Linked DNA regions of Homo sapiens. The protein of the gene in region 1 purifies or fractionates together with the protein of each later gene. This does not show direct contact. Each region holds a gene or a part of one and is shown in the gene's direction. Other genes may lie near its edges.

The links.
Region 2: the proteins of EPB41 (region 1) and GOT2 purify together in Homo sapiens (co-immunoprecipitation; one large-scale study listed by IntAct). This does not show direct contact.
Region 3: the proteins of EPB41 (region 1) and DYNLRB1 purify together in Homo sapiens (co-immunoprecipitation; one large-scale study listed by IntAct). This does not show direct contact.
Region 4: the proteins of EPB41 (region 1) and COPZ1 purify together in Homo sapiens (co-immunoprecipitation; one large-scale study listed by IntAct). This does not show direct contact.
Region 5: the proteins of EPB41 (region 1) and MYH1 purify together in Homo sapiens (co-immunoprecipitation; one large-scale study listed by IntAct). This does not show direct contact.
Region 6: the proteins of EPB41 (region 1) and PNP purify together in Homo sapiens (co-immunoprecipitation; one large-scale study listed by IntAct). This does not show direct contact.
Region 7: the proteins of EPB41 (region 1) and PIN4 purify together in Homo sapiens (co-immunoprecipitation; one large-scale study listed by IntAct). This does not show direct contact.

What each region holds. Positions count from the first base shown.
Region 1 is NC_000001.11:28,921,069-28,924,568, forward strand, and holds part of EPB41 (protein 4.1), read left to right. Parts: intron 1-3,500. UniProt on the Homo sapiens protein: Protein 4.1 is a major structural element of the erythrocyte membrane skeleton. It plays a key role in regulating membrane physical properties of mechanical stability and deformability by stabilizing spectrin-actin interaction. Recruits DLG1 to membranes.
Region 2 is NC_000016.10:58,717,317-58,720,816, reverse strand, and holds part of GOT2 (aspartate aminotransferase, mitochondrial isoform 1 precursor), read left to right. Parts: intron 1-1,561; coding exon 1,562-1,621; intron 1,622-2,128; coding exon 2,129-2,290; intron 2,291-2,516; coding exon 2,517-2,621; intron 2,622-3,500. UniProt on the Homo sapiens protein: Catalyzes the irreversible transamination of the L-tryptophan metabolite L-kynurenine to form kynurenic acid (KA). As a member of the malate-aspartate shuttle, it has a key role in the intracellular NAD(H) redox balance.
Region 3 is NC_000020.11:34,536,922-34,540,421, forward strand, and holds part of DYNLRB1 (dynein light chain roadblock-type 1), read left to right. Parts: intron 1-3,500. UniProt on the Homo sapiens protein: Acts as one of several non-catalytic accessory components of the cytoplasmic dynein 1 complex that are thought to be involved in linking dynein to cargos and to adapter proteins that regulate dynein function.
Region 4 is NC_000012.12:54,342,131-54,345,630, forward strand, and holds part of COPZ1 (coatomer subunit zeta-1), read left to right. Parts: intron 1-75; coding exon 76-157; intron 158-1,094; coding exon 1,095-1,186; intron 1,187-3,329; coding exon 3,330-3,385; intron 3,386-3,500. UniProt on the Homo sapiens protein: The coatomer is a cytosolic protein complex that binds to dilysine motifs and reversibly associates with Golgi non-clathrin-coated vesicles, which further mediate biosynthetic protein transport from the ER, via the Golgi up to the trans Golgi network.
Region 5 is NC_000017.11:10,494,543-10,498,042, reverse strand, and holds part of MYH1 (myosin-1), read left to right. Parts: intron 1-125; coding exon 126-309; intron 310-590; coding exon 591-756; intron 757-849; coding exon 850-974; intron 975-1,493; coding exon 1,494-1,802; intron 1,803-1,889; coding exon 1,890-2,093; intron 2,094-2,725; coding exon 2,726-2,851; intron 2,852-2,941; coding exon 2,942-3,112; intron 3,113-3,369; coding exon 3,370-3,474; intron 3,475-3,500. UniProt on the Homo sapiens protein: Required for normal hearing. It plays a role in cochlear amplification of auditory stimuli, likely through the positive regulation of prestin (SLC26A5) activity and outer hair cell (OHC) electromotility.
Region 6 is NC_000014.9:20,474,998-20,477,589, forward strand, and holds the end of PNP (purine nucleoside phosphorylase), read left to right. Parts: intron 1-64; coding exon 65-255; intron 256-1,386; coding exon 1,387-1,604; 3' UTR 1,605-2,092; downstream 2,093-2,592. UniProt on the Homo sapiens protein: Catalyzes the phosphorolytic breakdown of the N-glycosidic bond in the beta-(deoxy)ribonucleoside molecules, with the formation of the corresponding free purine bases and pentose-1-phosphate.
Region 7 is NC_000023.11:72,188,257-72,191,756, forward strand, and holds part of PIN4 (peptidyl-prolyl cis-trans isomerase NIMA-interacting 4), read left to right. Parts: intron 1-3,500.

The sequences.
Region 1 (3,500 bases):
AATAGAGTTGTTTTGAATTGGTTAAATTTAAGCCTGTAACCCATACGTGTAATAGAAATGTATATTTTTGGTGATTTATGAATACATAGTATTAGGCCAAGGTTTAGTTGTGATTGATATACAGCTATTAGTACTTACATATACTCTTAAGTAATCCTATTAAAATCATTTTAACACAATGGGATCTTAATGGCATATCTTTAAACCTATCTTATAAAGAAATGCTGCTTTAACTTAGATGCCAAGCACATATTTTAATTTACCAATTAGAAGTTCTATATGTATTCAAGTGAAGAGTGTTTCACCTTAATAATACATTTCATACAGATTGTTGAAATTCATCCCATTCCCCCTTCCCTCCCCAGTTTTTGGCCATATGGACACAGGCAGGACTCTCAGGAGTGCCAAGGATTTAAGCCCTCAAATTTTACCTGCCTACCATTTCAGCATGCGATAGGGACACATGGAAGGCAGCTTAAAGTAAAGGCTTTAAAAAATTTTTTTTGCTACCACCCACTTGCTGTTTCTTGCCCTTTTCTCTTTTTTTTAATGATTCAGAGGATCGACACTGTTGCCAGCTTACTACCTGCAGTCTTTCCAGTCTTGATGGTATTACGTAATTATATAAACCTTTTGCATGGTATCATATGATATTGTATATTTGTCTTCCTACACATGTGTCTTTAGAGTAATTTCTTTCCATCTGGTGTTGAAAATGAGCTCTTTGTGAGGTTATTTTTAAATCTTCAAGCTTTCTGGCATCCTCAACACTTGAAATAACACAATTGCTTTTGGAGGCAAGAAAATCCACATAGTATACTTTGTGGTTTTTCCAGTGAAAATGTAAATAGTATTTTATTTATGAAATTTTATATATATATATATATATATATACACTTTTTTTTTGTTTTTTTTTTTTGAGACGGAGTCTCTCTCTGTCACCCAGGCTGGAGTGCAATGGCATGATCTTGGCTCACTGCAACCTCTGCCTCCCAGGTTGAAGCGATTCTCCTGCCTCAGCCTCCCAAGTAGCTGGCATTACAGGCACGTGCCACCACGCCTGGCTAATTTTTGTATTTTTAGTAGACACGGGGTTTCACCGTGTTGGTTAGACTGGTTTCGAACTCCTGACCTCCTGGTCCGCCCGCCTTGGCCTCCCAAAGTGCTCAGATCACAGGCATGAACCACCGCACCTGGCCTATAAAATTATATTTTATATTTAGATAGTCTTGAGATAATTGTGTTAGGTTGGAAATAGTTGTTGCCAAGTAAATAAAGTAAAGGAGAGCTACTTAAGGGAAAGGAGACCAAGAATAAGAAGCCTGGTAGAGGAAAGAGGTTTTAAAGATATCTTCTTCTCTGAAGATTTATTGTTATCTTTTTATCCTCTGTCTCATTCTGTTGCCCAGGCTGGAGTGCAGTGGGGCAATCATGGCTTACTCTAACCTTGAACTCCCGGGCACAAGCAGTCCTCCCACCTGAGCCTCCTGAGTAGCTGGGACTACAGGTGCATGCCACCGTGCCCCGCCAGTTTTAAAATTTTTTCTTAGAGACAGGATTTTTTTTTTTTTTTTTTCGAGATTGAGTCTCACTCTGTTGCTCAGGCTGTAGTGCAGTGGCGCGATCTCGGCTCACTGCAACCTCTGCCTCCCGGGTTCAAGCAATTCTTCTGCCTCAGCCTCCCAAGTACCTGGGACTATAGGTGTGTGCTACCATGCCCGGCTAATTTTTGTATTTTTTAGTAGAGTCGGGGTTTCACCATATTGGCCAGGCTGGTCTCAAACTCCTGACCTCATGATCCGCCTGCCTCGGCCTCCCAAAGTGCTGGAATTACAGGTGTGAGCCATTGTGCCCAGGCTGAGATGATCTTATGATATTGCCCAGCCTGGTCTCAAGAGATCCTCCTGACTTGGCCTCCCAAAGTGTTGGGATTATAGGTGTGAGCCAACACACTCAGCCGTGATGCACTGTTTGATTCTGATAATCAGGTATGTGTAATTAGCCTTAAACCTTTTTCTTCCTTCTTTCCTTTCTTTTCTTTTCTTTTTTTTTTTTTTTTTTTGAGATGGAGTCTCACTCTGTCACCCAGGCTGGAGTGCAGTGATGGGATCTCAGCTCCCGGATTCAAGCGATTCTCCTGCCTCAGCCTCCCAAGTAGCTGGGATTACAGGCGTGTGCCACCACACCTGGCTAATTTTTGTATTTTAGTAGAGACAGGGTTTCACTATGTTGGTCAGGCTGGTCTCGAACTCCTGACCTCAGGTAATCTACCCGCCTCGGCCTCCCAAAGTGCTGGGATTAGAGGTGTGAGCCACTGCGCTTGGCAACCTTTTTATTTCTTAACGGTAGATTGATATATCCTCTAGCTTACTAAGTAACCTTTGAATTTTTATTATTTCTTTAATTGTAATATAAAAAGCTGATCTTTTATTAAGTGCCATTCCGTCTCCTAAAGATGATGCCTATAATGATTAAATAGTAAAGGTCAGTGTCATCTACTTAGCAAGATTTACCCAGTAAGTCTTTTTTTCTCCAGATGCTATTTTTGTTGACTTATCCTTGCTAGTTGTATTATCTCTAATATGACCATTAATGGACACTGGTTAACAAGATATGTTCAATATTTAATGTATTCTCTTTGGTATTTTGTAAGATGGAAAAGACTAGCATTGGGATGAATAATTGCATAATGATCATAGAATCATATTTAAATAAATATACCAAAGAATATATAACTAAAGGGCAAGTTTTTTTGTTTTATGTTTTTAAATTTTTATCATGCGTACTGTGGTAGGCAGCCTTTATTATGGCCCCCAATTATCCCTCCCTCCTGGTATGCATACCCTTAGTGTAATTTCCTCCCCTTGAGTGGGGGCTATTGAATAGAATACAGCAAAAGTGATGGGATGTCACTTCTAAGATTAGGTTATAAAATACTGTGGCTTCTCTCTTGGGATTCTGGCTTTCTCCCTCTCCCTGGGACCACTAGCTACCATATCCTGAGAACACTCAGGCAGTCTGTAGTGATGTCCATGTGGTTAAAAACGAGGTCTGTCAGTAAACTTGGATGCAGATCTTCGGTGTGAGTGATCTTGGAAGCAGATTCTCCAGGCAGAGTTGAGCCTAGAGGTGAATGCAAATGCAGTAGACAGCTTTACTACAACTTCATGAAAGCCCCTGGCCGGGTGCGTGGCTCATGCCTGTAATCCCAACACTTTGGGAGGCCAAGGTGGGTGGATCACCTGAGGTCAGGAACTCGAGACCTGCCTTGCCAACATGGCGAAACCCCGTCTCTACTAAAAATAGAAGAATTACCTGGGTGTGGTGGTGTGCACCTGTAGTCCCAGCTACTTGGGAGGTTGAGGCAGGATAATCGCTTGATCCTGAGAGGTGGCGGTTGTAGTGAGCTGAGATCGTGCCACTGCACTCCAGCTCTGGGTGACAGAGCGAGACTACATCTCAAAAAAAAAATAAAAAAGACCCCAAGCCAGAGTCACCTA
Region 2 (3,500 bases), on another chromosome or scaffold:
GTCAGGAGTTCGAGACCAGCCTGACCAATATGGTGAGACCCGCCCCCCCGTCTCTACTAAAAATACAAAAATTAGCCAGGTGTGGTGGTGCACGCCTGTAGTCTCAGCTACTGGGGAGGCTGACATGGGAGGAATCCTGGAACCCAGAAGGTGGAGGTTGCAGTGAGCCAAGTTTATGCCATTGCATTCTAGCCTGGGTGACAGAGCACGAACCTATCTCAAAAAAAAAAAAAAAAAATTGTTGTGCCTTTGTGAATCGTAGTATCATCGGACCTACAGTGAGGTTTTTATTTCCATCATGCCAAAGCTTGCAGGACAAACTATTTAAAATAATTTTTTAGTTGGGTTTTTCCCTCTTTAATCTACTACCACCCCAGTCCAGAAAAATACATTTGTGCTTTGTAGAGCCTTGTACTTCTACAACACCTTTAAAAACAACAAACAAAAACCTCTTAAACCTATGGTAATTTCTTGTTTGTCCCTTAAAGTTGACCAATTTGAATAAGGAGATTCACCTTAGGCATCTTCCTATTACCCAAAACATGAATATTTTCAGATTATGAAAACACATAGAAGGGGACCTCTTAGAAAACCTTTATTTATTTATTTATTTAGAGATGGAATTTCGCTCTTGTTGCCCAGGCTGGAGTGCAATAGCACGATCTCAGCTCAACGCAACCTCCGCCTCCTGGGTTCAAGCAATTCTCCCGCCTCAGCCTTCCTGAGTAGCTGGGATTACAGGCATGCGCCAACACACCTGGCTAATTTTGTATTTTTAGTTGAGACAGGGTTTTTCCATGTTGGTCAGGCTGATCTCGAACTCCTGACCTCAGGTGATACGTCCACCTCGGCCTCCCAAAGTGCTGGGATTACAGGCATAAGCCACTGCGCCCGGCCAGAAAACCTTTAAAATGTTGTAATGTTATCCTTGTATACTTGTTGACTTGCTTTTCAAGGAACTTTGATGTTTAGAGAGTCATTCTACTTTGTATAATTCTAAAGTAATGTTTTAATGTAGTGACTGTTCTCAGTGTCTTTTTATTTTATTTATTTATTTTTTTTGAGACAGAGTCTCACTCTTTTGCCCATGCTAGAATGCAATGGCACAGTCTCGGCTCACTGCATCCTCCACTTCGCAGGTTCAAGCAATTCTCATGCCTCAGCCTTTCCAGTAGCTGGGATTACAGGCATGCGCCACCATGCCCAGCTAATTTTTGTTTTAGTAGAGACAGGGTCTCGCCATGTTGGCCAGGCTGGTCTCGAACTCCTGACCTCAGGTGATCCACCCGCCTTGGCCTCCTAAAGTTCTGGGATTACAGGCATGAGCCACCGCACCCAGCCTCTCAGTGTCTTTTTATATCTTTTATATAATTCACCCCTTTTTCATATTGAGGAGGAATTTTTGTGTTCTGAAAGTTTCCCGTGTAACATGAAATGATACTGACAGGCCATAAAGAATGAGCTTCTGAAGTATGAAAGGTCCTGGACAAAGCAGTGGCCCTGGGTCTGGGCCTGTATAGAGAGTGTTGCACATCACTGACCGTGGGTATCTCTCCTTCAGTTTGTCACTGTGCAGACCATTTCTGGAACTGGAGCCTTAAGGATCGGAGCCAGTTTTCTGGTGAGTCTGGAAGCTTCTTCAGGAAAGAATTATAAATTCCAGATGACAGGGCTTCCTGTTGTGTGTGTATTTGACTGTTGATGCAGAAGTAGATTTCTTCTTTCCGTGAAGTTTGCAGATGTCCTATTCTCATGAAAAAATGAAAGGACTTTGAAGAAATTACAGGAAAGATATATTAGTGATGATGATAAATTCAGTTCACTAGGAACTTACTATTTACTAGGGAGCTTTTGCATTTTAACTTGTTTAATCCCTATGAGAGAGGTACAATTAACCCCCTTTACAAGTGAAGAAAGCAAGACCCAGAAAGGTCCTTGGCTACATGGCCAGTATAACTGTCAGAGACTATTCCAACCCAGGCAGTCTTACTGCTGAGTCAATACTGCTTCTCAACCATAGAGAGAAACTGGGTTTCAGCAGAGAAAAATGTTCTCTCAATAAAACACATCAACATTTTTTTGCCTCTCCTTTGTTCATTTTTCTGTTTCCTTTCGTCCCATCTTTTAGCAAAGATTTTTTAAGTTCAGCCGAGATGTCTTTCTGCCCAAACCAACCTGGGGAAACCACACACCCATCTTCAGGGATGCTGGCATGCAGCTACAAGGTTATCGGTATTATGACCCCAAGACTTGCGGTTTTGACTTCACAGGCGCTGTGGAGGATATTTCAGTAAGTGTGGCTTTCAGGGTGAGAGAGGTGAATAAAACTCCTTGCTTGCGGACATTTGATGTCTCCCACCATGTCCCAATATCTGAGTTAAAATACTGGGGAAGAGCTGATTCCCAGGGTTCTGGTTACCTTTGTTACTTATCAAATGATGACGATCCTGTGGCATTTCAGATAAACCATTTCCTTTAAAGCTGCAAAGTCGTCTCTTGGCTGTTTTTCTCTTTAGAAAATACCAGAGCAGAGTGTTCTTCTTCTGCATGCCTGCGCCCACAATCCCACGGGAGTGGACCCGCGTCCGGAACAGTGGAAGGAAATAGCAACAGTGGTGAAGGTGAGGACGATGAACTCACTGGCGACAGTTCTGTGTTTAGTAACCAGCTTTGGAGGCTTAATTTGGCAATGTCTCAACAGAGAGTCTTAACCTCGAACCTGCGTGAAATGTCCACACAGGTGGATAAGCTGCCAGAAAAGGGCTCCCCATTTGCGTGATTAGCAGTTCTGGGATTGATGACGCATGAGTATTTGAAAGTAATTTTTTTTGGCTGGGCGCGGTGGCTCACGCCTGTAATCCCAGCACTTTGGGAGGTCGAGGCAGGTGGATCACCTGAGGTCAGTTCGAGACCAGCCTGGCCAACATGGTGAAACCCCGTCTCTACTAAAACTACAAAATTAGCTGGGCGTAGTGGCCCATGCCTGTAATCCTAGCTACTTGGGAGGCTGAGGCAGGAGAATCACTTGAACCCAGGAGGTGGAGATTGTGGTGAGCCGAGATTGTGCCACTGCACTCCAGCCTGGGCAACAAGAGCAAAACTCTGTCTCTAAAAAAGAAAAAAAGAAAATAATTTTTTTCCTCATCCTGGATGTAGGGAACTCTGATAAAACCTGTCCACTGGCCCCAGGATGTCTGCTGTTGATGCCTATATTCGCCCTGGTCAGTGGTTGCTTATTGATCTTTTTAAACACTTTTTCATGTCCTCTCCTTTGCAGCATTGCCATGATCACTCTCAAAGTGTAGCCAGCTGTCAGAGAAGACACTAGTCAAAATTCCTAGGGAGGAAAATGTTATTCCTGTTGTCTCATGTCCCTGTTTTCCCTTTTCACTCCTTTTCATTTCCCTTTCTTTTCTCTCTCTCTCTTTTTTTTTCTTTTGAGACAGAGTCTCACTCTGTCGCCTTAAGCCAGAACGCAGTGGCACAGTCACAGCTCACAG
Region 3 (3,500 bases), on another chromosome or scaffold:
TCCTGAGAATGTCTCCTCTGGAAGGACAGTGTCATCTGAAAGCTCCTGGCCATTCAGGTCTCAACTTGGCAGCGGCAGCGTCTCCAATTTGGCCCTGAAGACCCACAGGCATTCAGAGCCCATGACTGTGGTTGGTGCTTGAGTCCAGAATGGGCAGCTCCCAAGTAGGGGGTTCTCCTTGGGGTTCACAGGCCTGGAGATCCCACAACCTTGTCAGTGGAGGAGGATGAGGTGGCCAGTCCCTCACCTTGGCAGCACTGCAGGGGGCGCCCGTGCTCTCAAGTCACACTGTCTCTCTCCCACACACATGCGGCGCTGTGCTGGAGGACGGTGGCGCGCTGAGCTTGTCTTACAGAGCATGCTTCTTTGGCTCAGCCTCACTGCTGCCACTCAAGTCCTTCCTCGTCACCAAATGCTTACCTGCATTTTTAAGGCCATCTACTCCACTTGAGAGTAAGTTCTATGAGGGCAGGGGCTTGTAAGCACATAGTAAGCATCTAGCAAATATCCATTGATTAAATAAATGAATGACTCTGTAAACCTCCCTCCACTGCTGACACCCCACTGATATGGGTCAGAAGTGGGGTCAGCAGTGGGGACGGGGTCAGGGATGTCTGTGGGGCATAGTTTTAGGATGAAAACCAGTGATTTGACACTTTGACATACCCACTTTTATGTGGCCAAGAAAAAATAATTGGGTTTTGGTGCCAGAACTCCTGTGGTCAGGAGCCACCACGCAGAGCCTAGGAGGCCCTGGCGCTGAATTGCCTCAGGATGGCTACAGAACACAGGACCCAGGGGTGGCCACAGGCGTAGAGCAGGCCTGGCTGCTGCTGGAAGTGCCCGTTTGAGACTGTAGTTAGCACCCTACACATCGTGGGCAGCCTGGAGCAGCCTGGCCCGGGAGGGAGATCCATGCCTTCCCACCTGCCTGACCTGACCCCATCCAGCTGAGGTACTGCTTCCCAGGCTGCAGACAGCAGCAGGTGTTCCAGACAGTGTGGCTCTCCACATGTGTGCCACATTCACCCCACCCTGGCCCAGAACCGCCCACGTGAACAGGCTTTTTTTTTTTTTTTTTTTTGAGACAGGGTCTAGCTCTGTTGCCCAGGCTGGAGTGCAGTGGTGCGATCATGGCTCTCTGCAGCCTCAGCCTCCCTAGTATACTGCTGGGACCACAGGCATGTGTCGCCACACCCAGCATTTTTTTTTTTTTTTTTTTTTTTGGTAGAGACAGGGTTTCACTATGTTGCCCAGGCTGGTGTCAAACTCCTAGGCTCAAGCGATTCTCCCACCTCAGCCTCCCAAAGTGCTGGGATTATATGCGTGAGCCACCATGCCCGGCCAAGACATTTTAACACAAACTTTTGTTAGCTGGACATGGTGGCACCAGTATTCCCAGCTACTCGGGAGGCTGAGGCAGGAGGATCGCTTGAGCCTGGGCAGTTGAGGCTGCAGTGAGCCATGATCACGCCACTGCACTCCAGCCTGGGCAACAGCGAGACCCAGTCTCAAAAAACAAAACAAAAAAAACAGACTTCTAGTTTTCACTTATTAACTTCACTAGTATTAAAGCTGAGGTAACTAACTCAGCCTACACAACCTTCAACACACACTACCTCTCACAAAGCACCTGAAGTGGTATTGTTGCATTTAGGGCTTGATGATTTGGAGTAAAAGACACTGATGTTACCGATTGTGCCTATTTTTATCAGTGGCTTGTTAATTATTTCTGTTTTCATTAGTGATTTTTATGTATGCAGATTGGTTAGCCATGAAACTGTTAGTCACTTCATTTCTGTTTCTTCCCTGTTGCAACAGCCCATCTTCGTGGGAAGAACCAAGCTTTAGGCTTGGCTCTGAACAGCCACAAAGTGACTTGGCTGAGGTCCTGCCATTTCGCTCATGCTCAGCAGGGGGCAGCAGACCAGGGCAGTTCAGAGTATGGGGTCAAACCCAGGTCCCTGTCCCCACTCCACCTGTGGATTTACCCTGGATTGGGCAAGCCCTTTAACTCTCTGAGGCTCCGTGTTCTCAGAGTGACTCGAGGATTCACTGAGGTGCCGTGTGAGAAGTGGGTGGCCCAGACCTGGACACAAAGAAGCCTTGATCAATGTTTGCAGTTTGATTAAGTGGGTAAATCTGCATATATAAAAATCACTAATGAAAACAAATAATTAACAAGCCACTGATAAAAATAGGCACAATCGGTAACATCAGTGTCTTTTACTCCAAATCATCAAGCCCTAAATGCAACAATACCACTTCTCCAGTTACCTCTTCAGTGAAACGGGAGGCACTCAGGCTCACCTCCAAGGACTTGGACTTGCTGTGATTTAATGGTGGACATTCCTCCTTACAGGGCCAGATCCCTGGAGCTGGAATCCAGGCTGCTTTGTCCCATTTTGAAATTTTCTTATTCAGAAGGTTCTGGAAAGCCAACAAATTGAGTTTGTGACAGAAATTGACATTAACTGGCTGGGTGTGGTTGCTCACACCTATAATCCCAACACTTTGGGAGGCTGAGACAGGAGGATCACTCGAGCCCAGGAGTTTGCAACCAGCTTGGGCAACATAGTGAGACCCCATCTGTACAAAACTTTTTTTTTTTCTTAATGGAGTCTCACTTTATCACCCAGGCTGGAGTGCAGTGAGGCGATCTGCAACTTCTGCCTCCCAAGTTCAGGCAGATCTCCTGCCTCAGCCTCCCAAGTAGCTGGGATTACAGGCACCTGCCACCAAGCCTGGCTAATTTTTGTATTTTTAGTAGAGATGGGGTTTCACCATGTTGGCCAGGCTGGTCTTGAATTCCTGACCTCAAGTGATCTGCCCACCTTGGCCTCCCAAAGTGCTACGTGAGCCACCACGCCTGACCTTCTACAAAAAACTTTTTAAAAATTTACCCAGGTTTGGTGGGGTGTGCCTGTAGTCCCAGCTACATGGGAGGCTGAGGCGGGAGGATCACCTGAGCCCAGGAGGTCAAGGCTGCAGCGAGTCATGATCGCACCACTGTACTCAGCCTGGGTGACAGAGCTCTTGCTCTGTCTCGCGGAGGGGAAAAAAAGAGAGAGAGAAAAAAGAAAATGACATTACCCAAGTCCAGTGAAGTATGTCGGAATTCCATCTTTGACACTAAGTAGCTGGGTAACCTTAAGCCAGTGGTCCTCCCACAGCCTACAACATCAGCATCACCTGGGAACTTGTTAGAGAAATGCAAACTCTTGGGCTTTGCCCCAGCCCCACTAAATGATGGTTCTGGGCGTAGAGCCCTCCAGGTGGTTGGGATGCCTGCTAGCTTGACAACCATGGCCTTAGGCAATTCATTGGAGCTCTTTGAACTGGAGTCCCCCCACCTGGAAAACAGGGGTGAGAATCCTGCCTACCTGCTGCCACTGTCGTGGGGAGGATTAGAAGAGACGACACACTGTAGAGTGCCCGCTGCCCGGTATGGGGAGGCCCCTCTTGCAGGAGCCCCTGCAGGAATCTTAAAGGTTTATCTT
Region 4 (3,500 bases), on another chromosome or scaffold:
GGGCAAAACATAGTCACTAATCATTCTGGCTTCCAGCTCTAGTGACCCAACCCTGTCTTCTTTCCCTCTGACCAGTACTATGACGACACCTACCCCAGTGTCAAGGAGCAAAAGGCCTTTGAGAAGAACATTTTCAACAAGACCCATCGGACTGACAGTAGGTCATTTTCCTTTCACTACTACCCGTGCTGGGGGGAACCATGGTGGAAAGGGGGTGGTAACAGGGCTGCAGAGAAAGGATGAAATGACTCTGCCTTTTTCTTTTTTTTTCCTTCTTCCCCTTGTATAATAAACTCTTCAGAATGTAATGGGGAGGTGAGTGTACCTCACGCGGGAATACCATGCTGGAAGGTTGGCTGTTAGCTACCTGTCTAGTCCCTGGATTTATGAGCCTCACTTGACAAATTTAATTGCAGCTCTGCTTATTGTACCGCATCCATTAGGGCAGGTAAATGGAAGTCTGTAAAGGTGACCGCTCTGCATTTTCACCTCCGAAGGATCGACTAGTATCCTGTCTCATATACAAGTAGGGAAATAGGTATAGTGGGCAGGAACAGAGGATGGTGGTTACAGAAGATACATTTAGACTCCCCCAAGTTCATACTTCTCTTCTCCTGCCACCACCCAAAAAGTGCAGATCATCTTCTGGCTTTGGAAGTCATTACAGGCGGCCTCACCTTAGCCCAAAAGAGCTGGATACTAGGAATTCATGGTAACGCCTTCTTTTTTTTTTTTTTTTTTTTTGAGACAGAGTCTCTCTCTGTCACCCAGGCTGGAGTACAGTGGCGAGATCTCGGCTCCCTGCAACCTCCGCCTCCCAGGTTCAAGTGGTTCTCCCATCTCACCCTCCTGAGTAGCAGGGATTACAGGTGCACACCACCACGCCCGGCTAATTTTTGTATTTTTAGTAGAGACGGGGTTTCACTGTGTTGGCCAGGCTGGTCTTGAACTCCTGACCTTAGGTGATCCGCCAGGCTCGGCTTCCCAAGGTGCTGGGATTACAGGCATGAGCCACTGCGCCTGGCTGGTAACTCCTTCTTTCCTACTTCCTTATCTCAAGCCACCCACTATTTTTACTTTTTTTCCCCCACCAGGTGAAATTGCCCTCTTGGAAGGCCTGACAGTGGTATACAAAAGCAGTATAGATCTCTATTTCTATGTGATTGGCAGCTCCTATGAAAATGAGGTGAGAATCCCCACCCCTCTTTGCTATTTCTGATCCTACTTTCTAAACCACAGGCAGTACATAGCCACTGGTTTGGGGCCCTAATAGAGCCGTGTTCCTCTGGCTTCTGACCAAGCTAATGAAGTTGTCAGAGATCCCACCAGCCTCACAAACATGGCCCGGCAAATGAATCGCCTAGAAAGGAAGTTTTCCTAGATTAATCTTTTGCATCCATTAGGAAACATCATATATGTTTTAATACCTTTCCCTGAGTAGTGTTTTTTAAGATGGATTTCTGAGGTATGGTCAAGACTGCAGGGGGATACTTGCTTCTTCTATGAAGGGTCCATACCTGACTGAGTTTGAGCCAATTAGCTAACAACCTGGGTCATGTTGAAACCATACATTCTGAATGGATCACTGGAGAAGACCTTGGGTATAGTCCTAACCTGCTTCCTATATGCAGGAAAAGCTGTTTGCCTCAGATAGCAACTTCTAGGAGAATAGATAAATAAAAATAAGCCCCCAGATAATTTGAGGCAAAAGTGAAAGTTTGAGAAAGTCAACTCTTACTGAGCTCTTATTATTGGTATAAGTGCTTTGTAAAGTATATTGTTATTTAAACCTCATAGCACTTCTATGAGTTGTAGGCATTGGTGCCTTTGTTTTACAAATGAGGAAACCAAACCATGAAGAACTATATGAAATTACTTGTATGTGACCATTGAGAAAAGTACAAAAGTGGCAGTTATCTGATGTGGTTCAACCTAGTAACTTTCTCAGGGTCACACATGTAGAAAATGGCTCAGCTTGGATTCCAACCCATATCTGTCTGACTTAAAGTCCATGCTTTTTAAAAAATTTTGAGACATAGGCCGAACGTGGTGGCTCACACCTGTAATCCCAGCACTTTGGGAGGCCAAGGTGGGCGGATCACTTGAGGTCAGGAGTTCGCGACCAGGCTGGCCAACATGGCGAAATCCCATCTCTACTAAAAATACAGGCCAGGCATGGTGGCTCACACCTGTAATCCCAGCACTTTGGGAGGCCGAGGCAGGCGGATCACGAAGTCAGGAGATTGAGACCATCCTGGCTAACACAGTGAAACCCCATGTCTACTAAAAATGCAAAAAATTAGCTGGGCGTGGTGCGGGCACCTGTAGTCCCAGCTACTCGGGAGGTTGAGGCAGGAGAATGGCATGAACCTGGGAGGCGGAGGTTGCAGTGAGCCGAGATCATACCACTGCATTCCAGCCTGGGCAACAGAGCGAGACTCCGTCTCAAACAAACAAACAACAACAACAACAAAAATTAGCTGGGCGTGGTGGTGGGCGCCTGTAATCCCAGCTACTTGGGAGGCTGAGGCAAGAGAATTGCTTGAACCTGGGAGGTGGAGGTTGCAGTGAGCTGAGATTGCGCCATTGCACTCCAGCCTGGGTGACAGAGCCAGACTCTCAAAAAAAAAAAAAAAATTTGAGACAGGGTCTTGTTCTGTCTCCCAGGCTGGACTGCAGTGGTGCGATCTTGGCTCACTGCAACCTCTGGCTCCCAGGCTCAAGTGATTCTACCACCTTAGCCTCCCAAGTAGCTGGGACTGCAGGTGCCCACCACCATGCCTGGCTAATTTTTTTTTGTATTGTTTGTAGACAGGGTTTTGCCATGTTGCCCAGGCTGGTCTCAACTCCTGAGCTCAAGCAATCGGCCTGCTGCAGCCTCCGAAAGTGCTGGGATAGAGTCAGAGTCTAGACAGGGTCTAGACGTTACAGGTGTGACCCACTGTGCCCAGCCAATTAAAGTCCATGCTTTTTACACTAACTCTGAAGCCTTCCTCTGACCTCAGCTATTGCTTGGTTAGTAATTTCTCTACCTAAGACATCAGGTAACACATATACAGTTGGTGAAGACATTGTAGAGGACTGTGACAGGGAAGTTCTGTTTAAACTTTTGGCTAAAAGATGTTGAATTGTGGAATCATGTAGCAGAATTTATTTCTGTGAGAAATCACAGATCCTTTTCCTGTTGTGCTCTCACTTCCACTTTATGTTTTTGGTCCTTTGTGAAAGCCTGTGTCTTTTGATGTTTAATGAATTAGGAGGTTTTGTTTTTAGGTAGCAGCTTTCAGGGCCTTGAACCTTATCCTTCTGCCTCCTCTGTTTCCCAACAGCTGATGCTTATGGCTGTTCTGAACTGTCTCTTCGACTCATTGAGCCAGATGCTGAGGTGAGCAGGACATTCTTTTTTTTCCCCTCAAGTTATGATGGAAAGAGCAGGGCATTGTTGATTTCTTTTTGGGAGATAAAGTAACCATTCTTCAGGCCCAGGGATTGTAGGGGAT
Region 5 (3,500 bases), on another chromosome or scaffold:
CTACAAAACAAGCTTGAGAAGCAAAGTATTAAAGAAGTCTGATTGTGGAATTCACTCTCTTGTACCCACTTTGAAACACCCAATTCAGTTGACAGCCATTCACTTTTATTGCCCATATTTCATAGGAAGAAGCTGGCTCAGCGTCTGCAGGATGCTGAGGAACATGTAGAAGCTGTGAATGCCAAATGTGCTTCCCTTGAGAAGACGAAGCAGAGGCTCCAGAATGAAGTTGAGGACCTCATGATTGATGTTGAGAGGACAAATGCTGCCTGTGCCGCCCTGGACAAAAAGCAAAGGAACTTTGATAAGGTATTCTCTCCAGTTTTTGCTTCAACTTTCAACACAGAATTAACAATAGCCTGCTACCTTCAGTGTGCCCAATTCAAACCATCTGAGGGCTGTTCTCAGTAGCTCTTAACCCATCAGCAGCTGTCTGTGGAGAGGGGAAGTGCTCCTATGGTTTCTATTCTTCTCATTCATAATTTTTTTTCAGTCCCAGAACACCTCAACTCTGAGAGGTGCTAGAATAGATGGTTTTTATCTCATCAAATTTTGTCCACTAAATTTCTTGTCCATTCCTTGACCTTCAGATCCTGGCAGAATGGAAACAGAAGTGTGAAGAAACTCATGCTGAACTTGAAGCTTCTCAAAAGGAATCCCGCTCACTCAGCACAGAACTATTTAAGATTAAGAATGCTTATGAGGAATCTTTAGACCAACTTGAAACCTTGAAACGGGAAAATAAGAATTTGCAACGTGAGAACATTTTACCTTTTCTTTAACAATAAAAGATTTGAAAGAATCTTTTCCAACTATAAACAAATTTCTATATTTTTTGTTCACCAACAGAGGAGATTTCTGATCTCACTGAACAGATTGCAGAAGGAGGAAAGCGCATCCATGAACTGGAAAAAATAAAGAAGCAAGTTGAGCAAGAAAAGTCTGAACTTCAGGCTGCCTTAGAGGAGGCAGAGGTAAGCATTTTATTGCATACTCTAAAACAATTAGAAGAGGAATTGGGGTCTATTAAATGTAAGGAATGGTGAATCAAGAGAAACGAAAAATAATTTTTGCTCCATGAACTAGGGATGAGAATGGAGAACTGATCATGCATACAACCAACATAACCATATGTCAGGAACTGTGCTACACACTGAGCAAACAAAGATGAATCAGTTAAAGGCCCTGCTTTCAAGGGCACAATCTACCTAGGGAGATAAAAGCATATAAAATCAACAATAACATTCAATAATTTGTAGAAATGTCTAAAACAACAAAATAAAAATGTATGATGGCAGCACAAAGGCAGACAGTGTGTGTGTTAGAGAATAGCAAGAAAATGCAAAGGCATGAAAATGACACTCTTGTTTAAATCTTACTACTACTTAGAAATCTATTTATAAATAAGGTTTCATGAATGATAAATCATTCTTATCTCTAGAATACTACACACTTCCATTACTCTACTAATGTCACCTCTTGCTGTCATTAAGGCATCTCTTGAACATGAAGAGGGAAAGATCCTGCGCATCCAGCTTGAGTTGAACCAAGTCAAGTCTGAGGTTGATAGGAAAATTGCTGAAAAAGATGAGGAAATTGACCAGATGAAGAGAAACCACATTAGAATCGTGGAGTCCATGCAGAGCACACTGGATGCTGAGATCAGGAGCAGGAATGATGCCATTAGGCTCAAGAAGAAGATGGAGGGAGACCTCAATGAAATGGAAATCCAGCTGAACCATGCCAACCGCATGGCTGCTGAGGCCCTGAGGAACTATAGGAACACCCAAGCCATCCTCAAGGTAAATATGTCCAACAGATGATCCCAGGACAATTGGGGTGCCTGCAACCCTGAATACATGGTGTCTCAATGACGGTTTGTTCCACAGGATACCCAGCTCCACCTGGATGATGCTCTCCGGAGCCAGGAGGACCTGAAGGAACAGCTGGCTATGGTGGAGCGCAGAGCCAACCTGCTGCAGGCTGAGATCGAGGAGCTGCGGGCCACTCTGGAACAGACAGAGAGGAGCAGGAAAATCGCAGAACAGGAGCTCCTGGATGCCAGTGAGCGTGTTCAGCTCCTGCACACCCAGGTGCATGTAATAATAGAATAGCAACAAATACAAGGGTATGAAAATGACATTCTTGCTGAAATCGTGGTACTATTAAGAAATCTATTTATAAGATTTCATGAAGGATAAAGTTTAAAATATTTTATTTTTTTGATTATCTATATTCTTATCTGAACTATAACATCCATAGTTGATTTTTTTTTTTTTTTTGAGACGGAGTCTCGCTCTGTCGCTCAGGCTGGAGTGCAGTGGCGCAACCTCGGCTCGCTGCAAGCTCCACCTCCCGGGCTCACGCCATTCTCCTGCCTCAGCCTCCGGAGTACCTGGGACTACAGGCGCCCGCCACCACGCCCGGCTAATTTTTTGTATTTTTAGTGGAGACGGGGTTTCACCGTGTTAGCCAGGATGGTCTTGATCTCCTGATCTCGTAATCCACCCGCCTCGGCCTCCCAAAGTGCTGGGATTACAAGCATGAGCCACCGCGCCCGGCCAGTTGATTGTCTTTTAAACATATGTCAACTCAGATAATTTATGAAACAAGGAGGAATATTAATGAATTCATTTAGTTAATTAGTTTATGGTTCATTAGAACATGAGGTTTCCTAATTTTTCTCTCATGTGCCTAATATTTCTAAATTTCACATTTTAAACAGAACACCAGCCTGATCAACACCAAGAAGAAGCTGGAGACAGACATTTCCCAAATCCAGGGAGAGATGGAAGACATCATCCAGGAAGCCCGCAATGCAGAAGAGAAGGCCAAGAAGGCCATCACTGATGTGAGTGAAGGGTAACACAGTGGTGGTCAAACTTAAATCTTAATGTGCTGTCTTAGCTGTCTTAACCCATTCTGTTTTACTGCTAATTAGGCTGCCATGATGGCTGAGGAGCTGAAGAAGGAACAGGACACCAGCGCCCATCTGGAGCGGATGAAGAAGAACCTGGAACAGACGGTGAAGGACCTGCAGCATCGTCTGGATGAGGCTGAGCAGCTGGCCCTGAAGGGTGGGAAGAAGCAGATCCAGAAACTGGAGGCCAGGGTGGGTCTCCTAATCAGCATGTATTTCTATCTCATTCCAATCCAACACACGATTCTGAATACCTAGCACTGCTAGATGATGTGGGGCATACTGAGATGAGGGAGAGCTATTCCCTCATGCCCAAAAGCTCATAATAAGGAAAACTGAACTAGGGCATTAAAAACTACATATAAAGCAGAGTAGAAGAAGTATGTGGGTCATGTGAAGAAGTAGAAATTCGTCAAATGAATGTCCTTAAAATGTCCATCTTCTTGTAGGTTCGTGAACTTGAAGGTGAAGTTGAAAGTGAACAGAAGCGCAATGTTGAAGCTGTCAAGGGTCTACGCAAACATGAGAGAAAAGTGAAGGAACTCACTTACCAAGTAAGGAAAATGGCCTGTCTAGGTTT
Region 6 (2,592 bases), on another chromosome or scaffold:
TCTAGGAGCTGTGGGAGAATTTTTAAAATTCCGTTTATGTGAGATAATTCAACCTGTGTCCTAGGTTTGGAGATCGTTTCCCTGCCATGTCTGATGCCTACGACCGGACTATGAGGCAGAGGGCTCTCAGTACCTGGAAACAAATGGGGGAGCAACGTGAGCTACAGGAAGGCACCTATGTGATGGTGGCAGGCCCCAGCTTTGAGACTGTGGCAGAATGTCGTGTGCTGCAGAAGCTGGGAGCAGACGCTGTTGGTGAGAAGGGGAATTTGGCTGGAAGCTTGAAGAGGGAGGGGTTTAGCAAAATGGGAAGGGGAAGGAGTAGGAAATAACAGGCCTCATTGGACTGAGAGGATCTGATTTCAGGGAAGGGTGAATTAAACTGACTTATTGAAATACAAACTGGTGAGATTTGGTGTAGCATCAAATCTCCCTACGAAGCACCAAGGGGTTAACAGCTGCAGTGCTAATGAATGATCTATCCATGATTTGATGACTGTTTTTTGAGACGGAATGTCGCTGTGTTGCCCAGGCTGGAGTGCAGTGGCATGATCTCGGCTCACTGCAACCTCCGCCTCCCGGGTTCAAGCAATTCTCATGCCTCAGCCTTCCGAGTAGCTGGGATTACAGACGTGTGCCACCACGCCCGGTTAATTTTTGTATTTTTAGTAGAGACAAGGTTTCACCATGTTGGCCAGGCTGGTCCTTGAACTCGCGACCTCAGGTAATCCGCCCATCTTGGCCTCCTAAAGTGCTGGCATTACAGGCGCGACGCACTGTGCCTGGCCAATGTGATGACTGTTTCTAAGAATTCTAAAAAATTCACTATAGCCACCTTCTGTACCTCTAGCTGGAAGATGGAACTCTATCATTAGGATTGAGTTCAAAATTGCCACAAATATAGAAATGAAGGATTGTATTGGTAATTTTAAGAAATGTGTATTTATTTTAGGCAATACAGAAGATAATTTAGCTGCTTCTTTGGATTTGTTTTAGGTGGGGCCTTGCTCTGTTGCCAAGGTTGGAGTGCAGTGGCACCATCTCTAGCTCACTACAGTTCTGACTGCCTGGGCTCAAACAATCCTCCCACCTCAGCCTCCTGAGTAACGGGGACCACAGGCGTACACTACCACACCTGGCTAATTTTATTTATTTTTTGAGCCGAGGTCTCTTTATGTTGCCCAGGCTGGTCTCAAACTCCCGGGCTCAAGACATCCTCCTGCCTTGGCCTCCCAATGTACTGGGATTACAGGTGTGAACCACTGCACCCGGCCATCTTTGGATGTTTTTTGAGATTTTTAATTCTTGTTGAAAGCGAGGCTAAAGGGCAAGGAAAAGAGTTATTTGAGGATCCTGACAGTTGGTTTCCATCTTTCTCACTATCAGGCATGAGTACAGTACCAGAAGTTATCGTTGCACGGCACTGTGGACTTCGAGTCTTTGGCTTCTCACTCATCACTAACAAGGTCATCATGGATTATGAAAGCCTGGAGAAGGCCAACCATGAAGAAGTCTTAGCAGCTGGCAAACAAGCTGCACAGAAATTGGAACAGTTTGTCTCCATTCTTATGGCCAGCATTCCACTCCCTGACAAAGCCAGTTGACCTGCCTTGGAGTCGTCTGGCATCTCCCACACAAGACCCAAGTAGCTGCTACCTTCTTTGGCCCCTTGCTGGAGTCATGTGCCTCTGTCCTTAGGTTGTAGCAGAAAGGAAAAGATTCCTGTCCTTCACCTTTCCCACTTTCTTCTACCAGACCCTTCTGGTGCCAGATCCTCTTCTCAAAGCTGGGATTACAGGTGTGAGCATAGTGAGACCTTGGCGCTACAAAATAAAGCTGTTCTCATTCCTGTTCTTTCTTACACAAGAGCTGGAGCCCGTGCCCTACCACACATCTGTGGAGATGCCCAGGATTTGACTCGGGCCTTAGAACTTTGCATAGCAGCTGCTACTAGCTCTTTGAGATAATACATTCCGAGGGGCTCAGTTCTGCCTTATCTAAATCACCAGAGACCAAACAAGGACTAATCCAATACCTCTTGGATTTTATTTAATGTCATAATGTTGTCAGAATAAAGAGAAAGATGAAATAATTTCATTTTTTTGTGTAACTTGGTATGGGGCTGGGGCACAGACCAAGATTGACATGAAAGGATGTGAGATCGCATGTCTTGTGTGACTATCTGCTTCTCAGACAAGCAGTTAGGAACTGAGATGAGATAGTATGTGAGGGCAGCAAAGGATGAAGAAGGGCAAAATGATGAAAGGTGAGGTGGAAAGAGGTTATGAGATGGTAAAGAAAAGTTAACTTCTGGCACTTGATTGCCACTTCTGTCAGGCTGGTCCTGCCTCTCTCCCTTGCCTTCTGATTGTTTCATTTCCTGTTTATTTGATCATATCTGAATTAGTTCACTGGTTAGCCTCTTCCTTAGTTCCCACTTCCTTACCAAAGCCCTAATTATATTTCCTCTTGTTTGCCTTTTCTCTCCTACTCTTCTCTAACATCTGCAGCCACACTCTCCATTCACTCCATGCTGACAAGGCAGTGGCAAACACTTTTCTCTGCTGCCAGCCACTCCACTGTTGACTGGAT
Region 7 (3,500 bases), on another chromosome or scaffold:
TATTCTAGGGTAATTTTGGCTATATGCAGTTTTCACCTAATATGTTTTCACAAGCATCTAACCTAAGAGACTGTTGCACTGCATATGGCTTTAGCTACTTTTTTTTATTTTTTTTTTTGAGACGGAGTTTCACTCTTGTTGTCCAGGCTGGAGTGCAATGGCACGATCTCGGCTCACTGCGACCTCCGCCTCCCAGGTTCAAGCGATTGTCCTGCCTCAGCCTCCCAAGTATCTGGGATCACAGGTGCCCGCCACCGCGCCCAGCTAGTTTTTTGTATTTTTAGTAGAGATGAGGTTTCACCATGTTGGCCAGGCTGGTCTTGAACTCCTGACCTCAGGTGATCCATCTGCCTCGGCCTCCCAAAGTGCTGGGATTACAGGCATGAGCCACCGTGCCTGGCGGCTTTAGCTAATTTTTTAAAAACTTTGTTTTGTTGTTTTTATCTTTGTAGAGATGGAGTCTCGCTATGTTGCCCAGGCTGGTCTTGAACTCCTGGCCTCAAGCGATCCTCCCGCCTCAGCCTCCAACAGTGTTAAGATTATAGGGGCATGAGCCACCACACCTGGTGCATGTGGCTTTAAAGAGGCACCTTACCCTCTCTGGAAAAAAAATAAGTTCAATGTGGCCACTCATGAGATATATGGAAAGGAGTGGCACGTTATTCACTAGGAAAGTAGATTAGGGTTAAATTTGTTTTTATAAAGCCTTTTATTTTGAGATAATTATAGATTCACATGCAGTTTTAAGAAATAATACATCTAGCTGGGCATGGTCGTGTGTGCCTGTAGTCCCAGCTACTTGGGAGGCTGAGGTAGGAGGATTGTTTGAGCCCAGGAGTTTGAGGCGGCAGTGAGTCAGGATCACGCCACTGCACTCCAACCTGGGCAACAGAATGAGACCTTGTCTCTAAAAAAGAAAAAAAGAAAAAGGAAAAGAAATAATACGTATTCCTTTGTTTCTCCCAATGGTAACACCTAACAAAACTATAGTACAATAGCACAAACAGGATATTGACATTGATGTAGTCAAGATACAGACAATCCTACCACTACAAGGATCCCTCCTCTTGGCCTTTTATAACTATACCCGCTTCCCTCCTGCCCCACCTCTGCCCTCTTAACCCATGGCAGCAACTTATCTGTTCTCCATTTGTGTAACTTTATAATGTCAAGAATGTTATATGAATGGAATAATACAGTATGTAACCTTTTGGGATTGGTTTTATTCACCCAGTATAATTCGCTGGAGATTTCATTCAGGTGGTTTTGTTTATCAATAGTTTATTCCTCTGTATTGCTAAATAGTACCAGTTGAGTATCCCTAATCCAAAAATACAAAATACAAAATGCTGTAAGATCTGAAACTTTTTGAGCGCTGACATGACACTCAAAGTAAATGCTCATTATAGCATTTCAGATTTTGAATTTTCAGATTAGGGATGCTCAACTGGTAAGTTTAATGCAAATATTCCCAAATCCGAAACACTCTGGTCCCAAGCATTTTGGATAAATGATATTCAACCTGTATCCCATGATGTGGAAGTGCTGTAGTATGTCGAACCATTCACCTGTTGAAGGACAGCTGGGTTGTTTCAAGTGTTTTTTGAAGGCACCAGTCGGTGAGGGACCCTGGGACCCTCTGGCCTTTTAGGGTTCAGCTCCTTTCACATTCTGTCATTCTGCTTCAGACCCCACCCCTGTGCCCACACCCTGCCCTTTTGTCGCTATAAGCTCTGCAGATTCTGAGACCCATCCACTGACCACAGCTTCCCTCCTTCCCCTTCCCTTCCTGCCTCCGCCAATCCTGTTCCTCTGTTCTTCTCCTCACAGACCCCCAAGCCCTCAAGCCCACCCTAATCTCCCCACTTTCTCCTAGGCTTCATGTTTGTTTTCCTATCCCCTGCACACTCAAAATTAGGCCTAAGGGCTTGATCATTGGATTGAGGAGGTCCAGTTTTTCTTTTGGCCACCTCCCTGCATCCACCTCCCTGCTACTCAGGATCAATCCAATGGTCTACTTTCTATGCACTTAAAATTAGATCTATAGTTAGAAGAGAAGAATTCGAGTGGTTCTAGTATAAAGAAAAGACAAATATTTAAGGTGATGGATATTCCAAGTATACTGATTTGATCTTTACCAATTATATGAATGTATTAGATTATTGCATTACCTTGAAACTGTACATCTACTATGCATCAATAAAAAAGAAAGGAAGGAAAAGAAAAGAAAAGAAAAGATTTCCTTGAAAACGTCTAGCTGGGGGCAACTTAAATATTAATACTTGATTTTTAATAAGTATGTAAATAAAGTATTTACTAATAATTCCAATATGAGTATTATATTTGCTTATAGATGAACTTATTTCAGTAGCTTGGCTCAAATTTGAAACAGTTACTTAAGAAAGAAAAATTCAGCCGGGCGCCGGTGGCTCATGCCTGTACTCCTGGCACTTTGGGAGGCCAAGGCTTGCGGATCACCTGAGGTCAAGAGTCCAAGATCAGCCTGGCCAACATGGTAAAACCCCGTCTCTGCTAAAAATACAAAAATTAGTCGGGTGTGGTGGCGGGTGCCTATAATCCCAGCTACTCGGGAGGCTGAGGCAGGAGAATCACTTGAACCTGGGAGACAGAGGTAGCAGTGAGCCGTGATCACACCACTGCACTCCAGCCTGGGCAACAGAGCGAGACTCCATCTCAAAAAAAAAAAAAAAAGCTCCCCAGAACTGCTGGGCCCTACTGGAAAGTCACACAGCCTTGGGGATTGGGACTACTAATACTTGGTCTCTGACTTTACCTAGGCCCTCAGTGCTGCTCAGCAATCCTTTACCGCCCACCTGTAGCCATCCACCACCCCACTCCCATCAGTCAACAGAGAACTTCATTCCATGGTTCTCAACCCTAGACGTACATCAGATTCGCCTAAAAAAATACGAGTGCCTAGGGTCTCATCCCAGACCAACTGCATCAGAATCTCTTGGAGGGGGGCCTGGACTTTGATAACTTTTTTAGAAGGGCTGGGCTCTGTGGCTCATGCTTGTAATCCTAGCACTTTGGGAGCCCGAGGTGGGTGTATCACTTGAGGTCAGGAATTCGAGACCAGCCTGGCCAACATGGTGACACCTTGTCTCTACTGAAAATACAAAAATTAGTTGGGCATGGTGGCATGCGCCTGGAATCTCAGCTACTCGGGAGGCTGAGGCAGGAGAATCACTTGGACCCGAGAGGCGGAGGTTGCAGTGAGCTGAGATTGCGCCACTGCACTCCAGCCTGGGCGACAGAGTGAGACTCCATCTCAAAAAACAAAAACGAAAAACTTTTCTAGAATTTCTGGAGGTGATTCTAATATGCTGCCAGGGTTAAGAAACACTCATCTAGTCTCACAGCGTTAGTGTGAGGATTTAATGAGATAAGTACTCATCAACTTTTAAATGTTTTTATTATTTTAACAAGAAAGTGGAAACCAGACCCATTGTCAGGAACTCATTGGCTTTCAGCCCCCT